2 separate regions of the Homo sapiens genome follow, and region 2 is linked to region 1. The links come from fine-mapping of genetic effects on gene expression. Tissue or cell type: whole blood. Region 1 holds a variant in brackets; the other region holds the start of a gene. All regions are shown on one strand. Distances are between the middles of the regions.

Evidence for each region. PIP is the estimated chance that this variant, and not a neighbour inherited with it, causes the effect.
Region 2: SLC45A4 starts here. The variant in region 1 is fine-mapped to the expression of SLC45A4 in whole blood (TOPMed, PIP above 0.99).

What each region holds. Positions count from the first base shown.
Region 1 is chr8:141,207,310-141,212,624 of GRCh38, reverse strand. SLC45A4 (solute carrier family 45 member 4) reads left to right here. Exons shown (of 9, transcript NM_001286646.2): 8 at 69-428; 9 at 928-5,315. The coding sequence ends at 1,053. Among named protein-coding and RNA genes, the nearest start is that of SLC45A4-AS1, 45 kb to the left of the region's middle. RefSeq lists enhancers at 3,294-3,801, 3,802-4,309. The variant C/T (reference allele first, on the strand shown) is at 2,528.
Region 2 is chr8:141,305,510-141,310,657 of GRCh38, reverse strand. SLC45A4 (solute carrier family 45 member 4) reads left to right here and starts at 2,370. Exons shown (of 9, transcript NM_001286646.2): 1 at 2,370-2,562. RefSeq lists silencers at 2,135-2,374, 2,395-2,494.

The sequences.
Region 1 (5,315 bases):
CAGTTGTGAAGCACGGGTAGCAGCCACCTTCTCCAGCCGCTCACCGCCTCGTGTTTCCTCTCTTGCAGTACATCCACCACAGCCCCGGGAACTCCAAGCGAGGGTTTGGCATAGATTGTGCCATCCTGTCCTGCCAAGTGTACATCTCGCAGATCCTGGTGGCCTCTGCCCTTGGGGGCGTGGTCGACGCCGTGGGGACTGTCCGCGTCATCCCCATGGTGGCCTCTGTGGGCTCTTTCCTGGGCTTCCTGACGGCCACATTCCTGGTGATCTATCCCAACGTGTCAGAGGAGGCCAAGGAGGAGCAGAAAGGCCTGTCTTCCCCGTTGGCCGGCGAAGGCAGGGCCGGTGGGAACAGCGAAAAGCCCACCGTGCTGAAGCTCACGCGGAAGGAGGGCCTGCAGGGACCGGTGGAGACAGAGTCCGTGGTCTGAGCCGCACTCCCGTTTACACACATTCCAGTGGGCGGGTGGGCGGGCGGGCGGGCGGCGGGGCCAGGCCATGGGCGGGAGCAGAGACACCGCGGAACCCTGCAGATGCTGTGGCCGACCCGGCAGTGCGGGCCAGAGCCCCTCCGCCCCCATAGCCACAATTCAGTAGTCGTAGGGTAGGTTTGAGCTACTAAGCAAATACCACACTAACCACTTTTTCGATAATTAAAAGAATCATTTGAAATATTTTTTTTAATTGAAAAAGATATTTTAATTTCAGCTCTTTTATTCTGCAGGTGTATTATTCTGCATGTTTTTAAATGATATAAAACATTTATATAGACAATAAGCAACTTAGAAAAAATAAGATTTTGCATTTCTAAAATTATAATTGAAAACAAAATCTGACATTCTCTGCTAAGTCTTATCTGAATGCTTCAGATAATGGTAGTGTAGTCAGTGACTAAAATATTTTTATCAAATTTCCTCTCTGTAGACGCCTGCAGGTATTGACGTCTGTCAGATCTCGTCACATTGGCTGGTGCCGCAGCTGTTGGAGAGTATTTTTCTTTATGATTATTTTAGAAAAAAAATTTTCTTTTCCACAATGTGGTTCTCTTAGAAGAATGACGTATCTTCTTTTCCTCAGCGAGTTGGACACATTGTGCCCAGGGCAGCCCTGTCCTTGGGCAGCGACCGCACACCAAAGCTGGGAGGAGGCTGGTCCGGGGGGCCTGGGCAGAAGACAGTGATTTGCAGGGGTGGCTCCCAGACACCCTGCCCAGGGATGGGCTGGGCACCACCTGGGGGCGGAGCGTGAGCTCCAGACGAGCTCCTGCGTGCGCGTGTGAGTGTGTCTGCGCCCAGCCATGTGACCCCGCTCGTCCCGTCTGAAGGACTCTCCTAGGAGGCCAGGTTGCCCCTCCAGACCGCTCCCAACGTCAGGGGGAAGGAAACGTTGACTTTCACTGCACTTTGATTCGTCTCTAAACCATTTGCTGGGGATTCCTGAGAGCAGAGCTCCCAGCGGGCCCTGCCTCCCAAGTCCCGCCGCAAGGCTACCTCGGGTGTGTGGATGTGCGAGGGCCTCCCCCGCTTGCGAAGGGGACATGCGTGCTGGAACCTGTCGGAACTCCATGCCTTCCTCGCCTGCTCACCTGCTCGACGCTGGAATCGGGACAGGTGCAAAGGGACGCAGACGTCTGGGACAGCTAAGGCCCGTGTCACCGGAGGGCTCCGCACAGTCGTTCTGGTTTCAACGAATAAGCAAAACTCGGGCAAGTACTGCAGCTATTTGGAAATGTTTTCCAAACCACAGTCTCTTTAGAACTAAGCCTATTTGAAACGGTCGGTGTAGGCTTACTGAGATCAGGAGACAGGGAGGCCCCGCACATCACACAGATAAAGTCAGACAATTGTAATTAATACTTTTGCTGCCTCAAGTTGTTTTTTAAATAAAGTACTTTGAAATGCATGAGAATCATGCTGCAATATGATCATTCTAGAGCAAATATATATATACACGTATATATATTTCAAGATGAAACTAAAGCAGTTTTTAAATAAATTACTTGAATTTTCTGTGTATTTAAAGGAACGACTGTTTAATGTACTTGATGGGCCTCTGGTCTTGCCGTGTCTCCTGCCGCTGGTGGCACTTTGTAGATTGTGTGTTTGTGTCCGGGTGGCAGTTGGGTACCTGCTCACGCACGGTGTGTCTGCCAGGCCACGGTGTCCCAGGATCGCAGAGGGCTGACTTTCAAGACTTCAAGAACATTTTCTGGATGTGTGGAAACTTGAGAATGGCCTTGTGAATCTCGTGCTTGGACAGGGCAAGTCCGACTACTGAAAGTGCTGCCAGCTTTGCTGCGAGCCCTCCGGCCAGCGGGAGCCCCGTGGGCTGGGCACTGTGGCCCTTCTTCTCTGGGGGACGGCACCCCTGGCTTCCTCACCTCGGCCGGGCGTCCGTGGCAGCTCACTCTATGCAACTTGATCCTCTAGCGGCTTTAAGACTGTAGATCCCCTCTCTGAGACCTGGCTGTACTTGTCAGGATCTCGAGGCGCAGCTCCCGTCTTAGCTGGTTTCTCCGGCTTCT[C/T]GTCCTGACGACTATAAAACAGTTGGAGGCAAGAAAGCAGCGGATGTGGGGTGGCAGTGGCCTGACCCGAATCAAGATCCGACCCAAACCACACCAAATGTGGGTTCATCTGGGGGCCACCCCTTGCCTGAGGCTTCCCACCCTCATCTGAAGGCCCAGGGGCCGGATCCAGGGCTCACCAAAGCCGATTCCTCGCCAGCTGGGAGTGCAGAAGTCTCAGGGCCTGGCTGCGACTTGATTTTTAGGAGGAAGAGGGGCTTCGCAACCCCCCTCTGAATAGTGTGTTAACCCTTGAGATCCCAGCCTCGACTAATCTGAAGTAAGGACAACAAAGGCCATTCAGTGCCCTCCACATGGCCTTGCCACAGTCACTGTCAGGGTATGAACGTGCCGGAAGCCAGTGCCAGCCAGGGACAGGCGTGACTGTTGTGTGCTCCTCGGTGACAGGAGTCGGTGGCTGCACACTTTGTAGACTCGTCAAGCTGTCAGCACTTCAGGTGTTTGCAAGCAAAGCCCTTCTTAGTGTGCAGGTCAGTGTGCAGAGCCCAAATGAGGGGACCGCAGGGGCTGGGGTCCAGGGTCAGTAGAGTCGGTTTCTGGAGCTGCCTTCCTGGGAGGCAGGTGTGGGTGACCGGGGCTCTGGCGGTGCGTGTGGGCCCGGCCTGGCCACAGCGGGGACCAGGTCACGACATCTTTGGCCTCAACCCCTCCCCTGCACTGAGATTATTTCCAGATTGCACTCACTTGAAACCGTCCGTGTCGTCACCTTGTGTCTTAAGGGAAGCCGAGAAGAAGGGCAGACGGGCAGGCTGTCTTGTCTGCAAAGCGCCATTGCGCCCGCAGCTTGTGTGGGTCAGGCTGCAGCTCGGGTGTCTGTGGCTTCTAACCTTGTACCTCAGACGGATGCAGTAACAAGGCGGGGCTGGGGACGCCGGTCAGTGTCAAAGGGGAGGTGCTCTGGCTGATAGCCTTGCCCGAGAGGGACGAGGAGGCCGTGCGGGTGCCCCCTGGGGAAGCTGGCCAGCCATCCAGTGCTGAGGACGCAGCTGGAGTTGGGCTCGTGGCACCCTTGGGGTGTGGGCTGTGCAGGCTGGTGGCCTGGGTGCCTCTGCACACTGAGTGGAGTGTCAGGCAGGGTGTGTCGGTTGGTCGAGTCTTGTGTAATGTGCGCAGACCAGTTACCAAACTAGGATAATGTTGGTCTCATTTGTGGTGGTTTTGTTCCCTATACAAGTCAGCTAAGTAAAGACTCTTTTAACGAGCTTCCCCTTAACACATGGCAGAAGTTTCCAGGTGCAGGAATGCGAGCTGGCGGGAAGGGGCAGAGGCCGTGAGCTCTCAGCTGGGCCGGCCTGCCTGTGTCCCCTTTCCTGGGTCTGTCGGCAGACTGGCATCATGACGTTCCCTGGTGGCTGAAGAGCTAGCTTTGGAGTGTTGTTTTTCTCACTCTCAGGCAGGGGCCTTAGCTGGAATCCTCCAACCTGCCACTGAACACGTCAGTGCTGTGTGCTGCCTCTTGGACACCTGCCCTTGAAAGCCTCAGGCCCCTGGGAGAAGCACTCTGTCCAGTCCTGTCCCCGGGGGGGAGGCAGGGCCACTGAGCCCTCCTCAGATGGTTAGTGGCTTCCAACAGCCATCAGGAGTGTTTCTTGAATGCCCCAGGTGTGGAGGACTTGGTCTGTGACCACCTAGAACCCCAGAGCTGAACAGGAAGCCGTCCCTGCAGCAACAAGAGGGCTGGAAGGGGGAGCTGCAGGCCACCCTCGGCTCTCCCACTGCTGGGGCGGTGATGTTCGGGTGACATGTTTGAAAAATACTCTTAAAGATACCAACTGTTCCCTTATATGGCTAATGGTTTGTGCAGCCACCAGCGATGGCGGCCCCTATTAGAGACCAGGTTTGTTAAAACACCAAATATTGCTGTCCACACTAGACATTAACCGGCTTCAGAAAAGATGGACACCTTTTCCCACGCTGTTTCGCTTCTTAACTTTGGTCCAGCTTTAGCCACCACACAGCGTGTGAGGGACTGCTGCTGCGGAGTCAGCCTCGTTTGTCCCTCCGCCTCCCACCAGCACGCGCCGCTTCTGAGAGACACCAGCTCCCTGCCTCCAAGCCTGGTGCCACAGGCCTGTCGTGAGGGACCCCTGCTTCCGAGAGCTCCTGGGGGGGTTCTGCCCTTCACCACCTGGGAGAGGTGTCAGTTCAGTTCCGAGTTGAACAAGGCCCGTGCACACAGCATGTTGGGGGCCCAGCCCAAAGTTCTTGTCACCTCCTCATGCAAAGCCAGCCATCACCCTCCGGCCAGAGCTCAAGGTGGCCCCTTGGCCAGCCCCTCCTTGGGTCCTCCAGGAGGACTGAGCACCCCTCCTAGCGGCATCCCTTGCCCTCCACAGTGCTGCCAGGGGCACGTCGCTCTGTGCCGTGGACTGAGACCATCCCCTGGTGACAGAATGACCCGTTTGTTGGAAATGCCTCGTTGCCAGAGAAACTCCCCAGGCATCTCGGAACGAAACTATTTAGTTCCATTGTGAACTGGCCACGGGACAGCTTTTTATCAACTTATTAAGTTGGAGCACTGTAATCGCGCTTGCTGAGTTAGCAGTGGTGGTAAGCGTGTGTTAAACACATAATGTTACGTTTTAGGAGAGAGAGGTCGTAAGGAAGTGTCGTGTCGCTCATGACTCTCTTCTATTAGTTGGGTAACAGTGGCCTCATGTTTGTGTCTGTGTGTACACAGAGCCCTTAGGTTCTGCTCTGTTTCTTTGCCAGGTGAATGTTTGTGGCA
Region 2 (5,148 bases), 98 kb before region 1:
ATGGCTGGTACATACCCCACAATGCACTCCTTAAGAAGAGAGATGGGATCATGTTCCCAGCTCCAGTACTAGGACCCAGCAAAGCGTGTGGCACATAGTAGGCACACACTCAGTAGTTGGTTACTGCATGAATGACAATGAAGACAATTCAATCAATACCAGCAATTTGTGAATAAACAAAGTCTTTACCTGTTCTGTCCTCTTGATTGTATTGTCATTTTAAAAAGCATCATTTTGCTATTTTGTTTAAGCTTCAGGACAACTTGTGAACTAGGTACTATTAGAATGCTCACTTATAGAAGAGGACTCAGGGAGGTTAAGTAGGCGCCCAGGCTCACACAGTTGGCTCACAGCACACCTGGAATTGCCGCTGCCTCTATCCTTTGGCCATTGAAAGAAAAATCACCAGGGAAGCAGATGTACAGTTTGAGCACTCATGATGTGTCTGATGCTGCTTTGGACTGTCTACAGACCATTGATGTACTTACTAACCCTCTGTTGAGATACTGCATACACATGGAAAAACACACACGTCTTTTTTTTTTTTTAATAGAGATAGGGTCTTACCATGTTGCTCAGGCTGGTCTCAAACTCCTGGGCTCAAGCAATCCACCCGCTTTGGCCTTCCAAAGTGTTAGAATTACAGGCGTGAATCACCGTGCCCCACAGGCACATGCATCTTGACTGCACAGCTGGAAAAGTCATCATAAACTGAGCACACTGTAACCAGCACTCAGACCAAGACACAGAACACAGCCAGCCCCCAGACACGTCCTCTGTGCCCTGCTTCCTGGCTCTGGCACCCCTCCCTCCAAGGGTAACCACTATCCTGACTGCTACCCCCATATACACCTTCTACCACTTTATCCACATGGAAACAAATATGGCTTTTTATCCTCTGGCTTCTTTTCCTCAACATCATTTGTGAGAGTCATCCATGTTGTTGTGTGTAGTTGATTATTCACTGTCATTGCTGTCATTCCACTGTGTGAATATATCACAATTTATGTATCCATTTAACGGCTGATGAGCATTTCAGTAGTTTCCAGTTTGGGGCAATTATAAACACTGCTGCTATCAACAGAAACACAATGTTAGGTGTGTATCTAGGAGCAGAATTGCTGGGTAATCAAGGCCTTTCAAAAAGATTTTGAAAGTTGTACCACTTTGCATGTCCACCAACAGTGTCTGGCAGTTCCAGTTGCTCCATTTCCTTGTCAACACTTGATATGGTCAGATTTTCCCATTTCCGATGCTCTTGGAGGCTCTGCTCTGCACTTCACTTCTAAATTCCTTTAGCAACAGGTGAGATGGATCTTACGATTTCTATTTTACAGATGAGGACGCCAAGGTTCTGAGAAATGAAGTAATTCCTCCAAAGCAACTTAAACCCTGGCAAGGGTGCAGGGCTGCGACGTTAACAGGGTTGGCCTCAGCCCATCACATCTGTCTGTTAAAGCCGCCTCCCCAGACCTTGTCTTGATGGGGTTTCCCAGCAGTCCTGCCCTAGGGATTGTGGCCCTTCTACACGTGGGGAGAGACGGATCAGTGTCCCTGGCCAGGGCCAAGCCTGAGAGGGAGGCCCAGCCTCCAGGAAGCTCCGGGTCGGGTCTTCGTCCTGCCCCGCTCTCCAGGTTGGAGAGGGGACCCGCAGAGCGCGGGGCGTTGGGGGAGTTGGGGACGGGGGCGTGGTCCGGGACCAGGTAGGAGGTCTTCGGAGGGTGGCAGGGAGGGGAAAACAGGAGAGTTTTCTCCTGCAGCGGAGGAGGGGCTGCAGCACCTGGATGGGGCCCATGTCGCCGCGCCACGGGCAGGGGCGGAGGGGGCGGGAGGGTGCTTGCCAAGGGGCTGGGCTGCCGGGGGCCGGGGCCTCGTGGCTAGCCGGACCCCTCTGCGACAGAGTGGCGAGAGGAGCGGGGAGAGAAGGTGGGGACAGGCGGGGGCCACCTCCTGCGGCTGCAGAGAGGGATGGGGTGGATTGCGGGCCAGCGCTTTAGGGGAGAGAGGGCGGACGCTCGGTGCGGAGGGGCCGGGGCCGGGGCCGGGGCCGGGGGCGTAGCGGGAGGAGGGCGGGGGCGGGGCTGGATTATGGCTGGGGGCGGGGCCATGGCGAGACGGGGGCGGGAGCCACGGTGCGCGCGGGGGCGGGGCAGGGGCGCGGCGGGGGCGGGGCGGCCGTTCGGGGGCGGGGTGGGCGGCAGCGGAGGCCAATGAGCGCGCGCGGCGCAGACCCCGCCCCCCGAATCCCCGTCCCGCGGCGGCGGGTGCTGCATAGTCATGAGGCGCAGGGGCCGGCGCTGCGTCAGCGGAAGCGGCGCGGAGCGGCTGTTTCCGACCCGATAAAGCGGCGTTGTCTCCGCGCGCCGGCCGCAGCCTCGCAGCGCTCTCTCCGCGCCCGCGTCGCTGACTGACCGCCCGGCCGGCCGGCCGAGGGAGCAGCCCCCGCCCGGACCCGCAGCCGCCTCCCGACCCCGGTGCGCCCGGGGCTCCGCGCCCCCGTAGCCCCTGCCCGGCCCGGCCCGGCCGCCCCGCCGCCCCCGCGGCCCCGGCCGGAGGAGACAGGTGAGTGGCCTGCCGCCCGCAGCCGCCTGCCCCGCCGCCCCCTGCACCTCGCACCTGGGCGCCGGGCACCTGCAGCCTCCCCACCCCCACCTCCCGCACAGCCTCGGCCTCCAGGTCGGGTCCGCGCCGCAGCCCCAGCCCCGCACCTTCTCCGGGGGAGGGGACGTGCCCCCACCCGGCTTGCGCTGGCTCCTCAGGGCCCCCCAATTCCTTCCCGCCTCCTCTTTCCGGATTGCACCTGCCCTGGTCCCCAGCCCTGCAGCCTCCCTCATTCCCCCCACCCCGGCCCCCACCCCGGGGCGCGCGCCTTCATTTGGACCCGGCCCGCTTTCGCACCCATCAGTCCTCCCCGCCCCCAGTTCCTCGGTTTCTCTACCCAGAGAGGAGCCTGGCGCCTCTAACTCCTGGTCCTGACCCTGTCTTGTCCTTCTAACCCCTGCCTGCTATCTCTAACTTATGAGAATTCAACCAGCGATACACCACTCGCGAAGTGGCCCCCTCTCCCCTCTGTCTGGACCGGTCCTCCCAACCGAACACACTCCCTTCTTCCCCTTCTTCCCCTTCCCTTCTTCCCCTCCTTTCCCTCTGCCCAGTGCACACACGACCCTGGCAGCACTGCTAGCCAGTGTCCCCCGCCTCGGACCCCCAGCCTGCACCGCCAGACTGTGGCTCTGCCCCGGTCTCATCGGCACTGCGCTCCCTTGTGTCCCTTTGAAGATACCTTGATTTCCTGAGACCGACCTTGTCCCTGGAGGAAAGAGGCCAGGGCATCAGTTCATCCGGGCCCAGATTCCCTGCTCTGTAGAAGTCCCCGCACCTTCTGCGTCTCAGCACCCGCTGCCCCTTTCCCCTTTGCGCTTAACCCGTTCCTCCCCCAGGTATCCTGCTCTGGATTGGAGCACTTCCAGCAGCGGCTTTTCCAGCGGAGGCGGATCCACACGGGGCCCAGCCTCCTGGTTAGCTATTCAGAATGATTCTAGAAGGCGGGGGCTAGGGAGGGCTGGGAAGGGCCGCTTGACCTCCTAAGGAGCCTGAGGTGTTTGTGTCTCTCCAGTGCGGGTCACTGATGGAGTGTGGCTTCAGGTTCACAGACCTAGCCACTGACCCCCATCTGATACCTCAGCTGACTCCAGCAAAACAGGGCTTGTCGTTTTTATTACTGTTTTGGGGGCTGTCTTTTCCAGTCTATGACCCGGAGCGAGGAGGGTTTACCAGATGAGTGATTGAACTAATTGTTGTGGGGTCAGATGATTCTTGTGGGCTGGTAGATTCTGAATCGAAGCCCATTTCTGCTGGGGAAAAGCCACTGCATCTGCCCAGCATTACTGAGAGCGCCCTGCGCTTCCATTCCCCAGACGGTCTCATCCTTCCTGTGTCATTGGCAGACAGGTAGAATGTGGTAGGAATCTTATCCTTCTGTTATTTTGTGCTGGCTTTAGGAAAAAATAAGAAAACAAAAAGCTGGAGTATTGGTGTACAGGTTAGGGAGTGTAACACATGGGGATCAGAGCAGGTAACACACACTGTCCTTAAAAGAAATGTATAGTGTCCTCACTTTTCTGCTAGGTTTGAATTATTGTTAAAAGAACGAGCAGAGATTATTTAAATGCTTGGGAGAGGTTTTGCAGAAGCCACTTGATGAGAAGAGGCAGCCCTGCAGGTTCCGGGTGGAGGAGACTCAGGCGCAGTAAAGAACTCATGTGTTTCTAGAGAGAGGCTGGGGAACTAGGTCGTCTTACACATCAAGGATTTCACACCCGTTCAGGCTAATTGTTTTTGTGGCAGTGGCTGTAAAGGAAAGAAGCAAATCGTTTGAAATGTGTTTGAAATACACACTGGGTATTTAAAGGTGTGTTTTTTTGGCCCAGGTGTTCACAGGGCGGGGAGTGGGGAGGCTGCCCAGGGCCACCTCCCGGGCCTCGTGGGGGGAGTGGCCTGCTGCCCTGCCGAGATGCGTGCTGCAGCTTTGGCCCTTGTCGCATCGTGAAAGCAGATCAGAGATTGGACTGGGTGAGCTCCAAGGTGTGTGTCTTGCAGCTTGTAACACCCTCTAACTTTGCTTATTGGAGGGGGGTGGGGGAGGGGCGGAGCAAGCCTGTAAACCGGATTCTGCCTCCTTTCCGTGAGCTCTGAGATCCCGCCCCAGCCCGCCCCGCAGATCTGCAGGGAAGGAGAGGGCTGCGGCAGCGGCAGCTCCCCACTTTCCCGATGGAGGAAAGGAGCCGAGGAAGGTATTTCAGCCAATCTTGAGGTTGCTTGGTGGTGAATGGATTGTATCTGTGTTGTCAGGAGAGAGGTGGGGAGGACAGAGGAGTGCAGCGCAGGGGTTCGGGCTGTGATTGTCGTTCTGACCGTGGTGCATCCCAGTGCCCTCTCCCGCTCTTCCCGAGGGTCCTGACGCCCAGTGGCTGGCTGGGGTGGTTTGTGACCAACAGCCTTGTGGCCTGGCACCGAGTGAGGGTGACTGACAAGCACTGTAGGTGGCAGACAACCCCAAATTGCCAGTGCCCTTCTTGGGAACACCCCTGGCAGAGTCGTGTCTGTAATTTGTGGAGGCAGAATATGCTGGAAGCCGCGTTCCTGCTA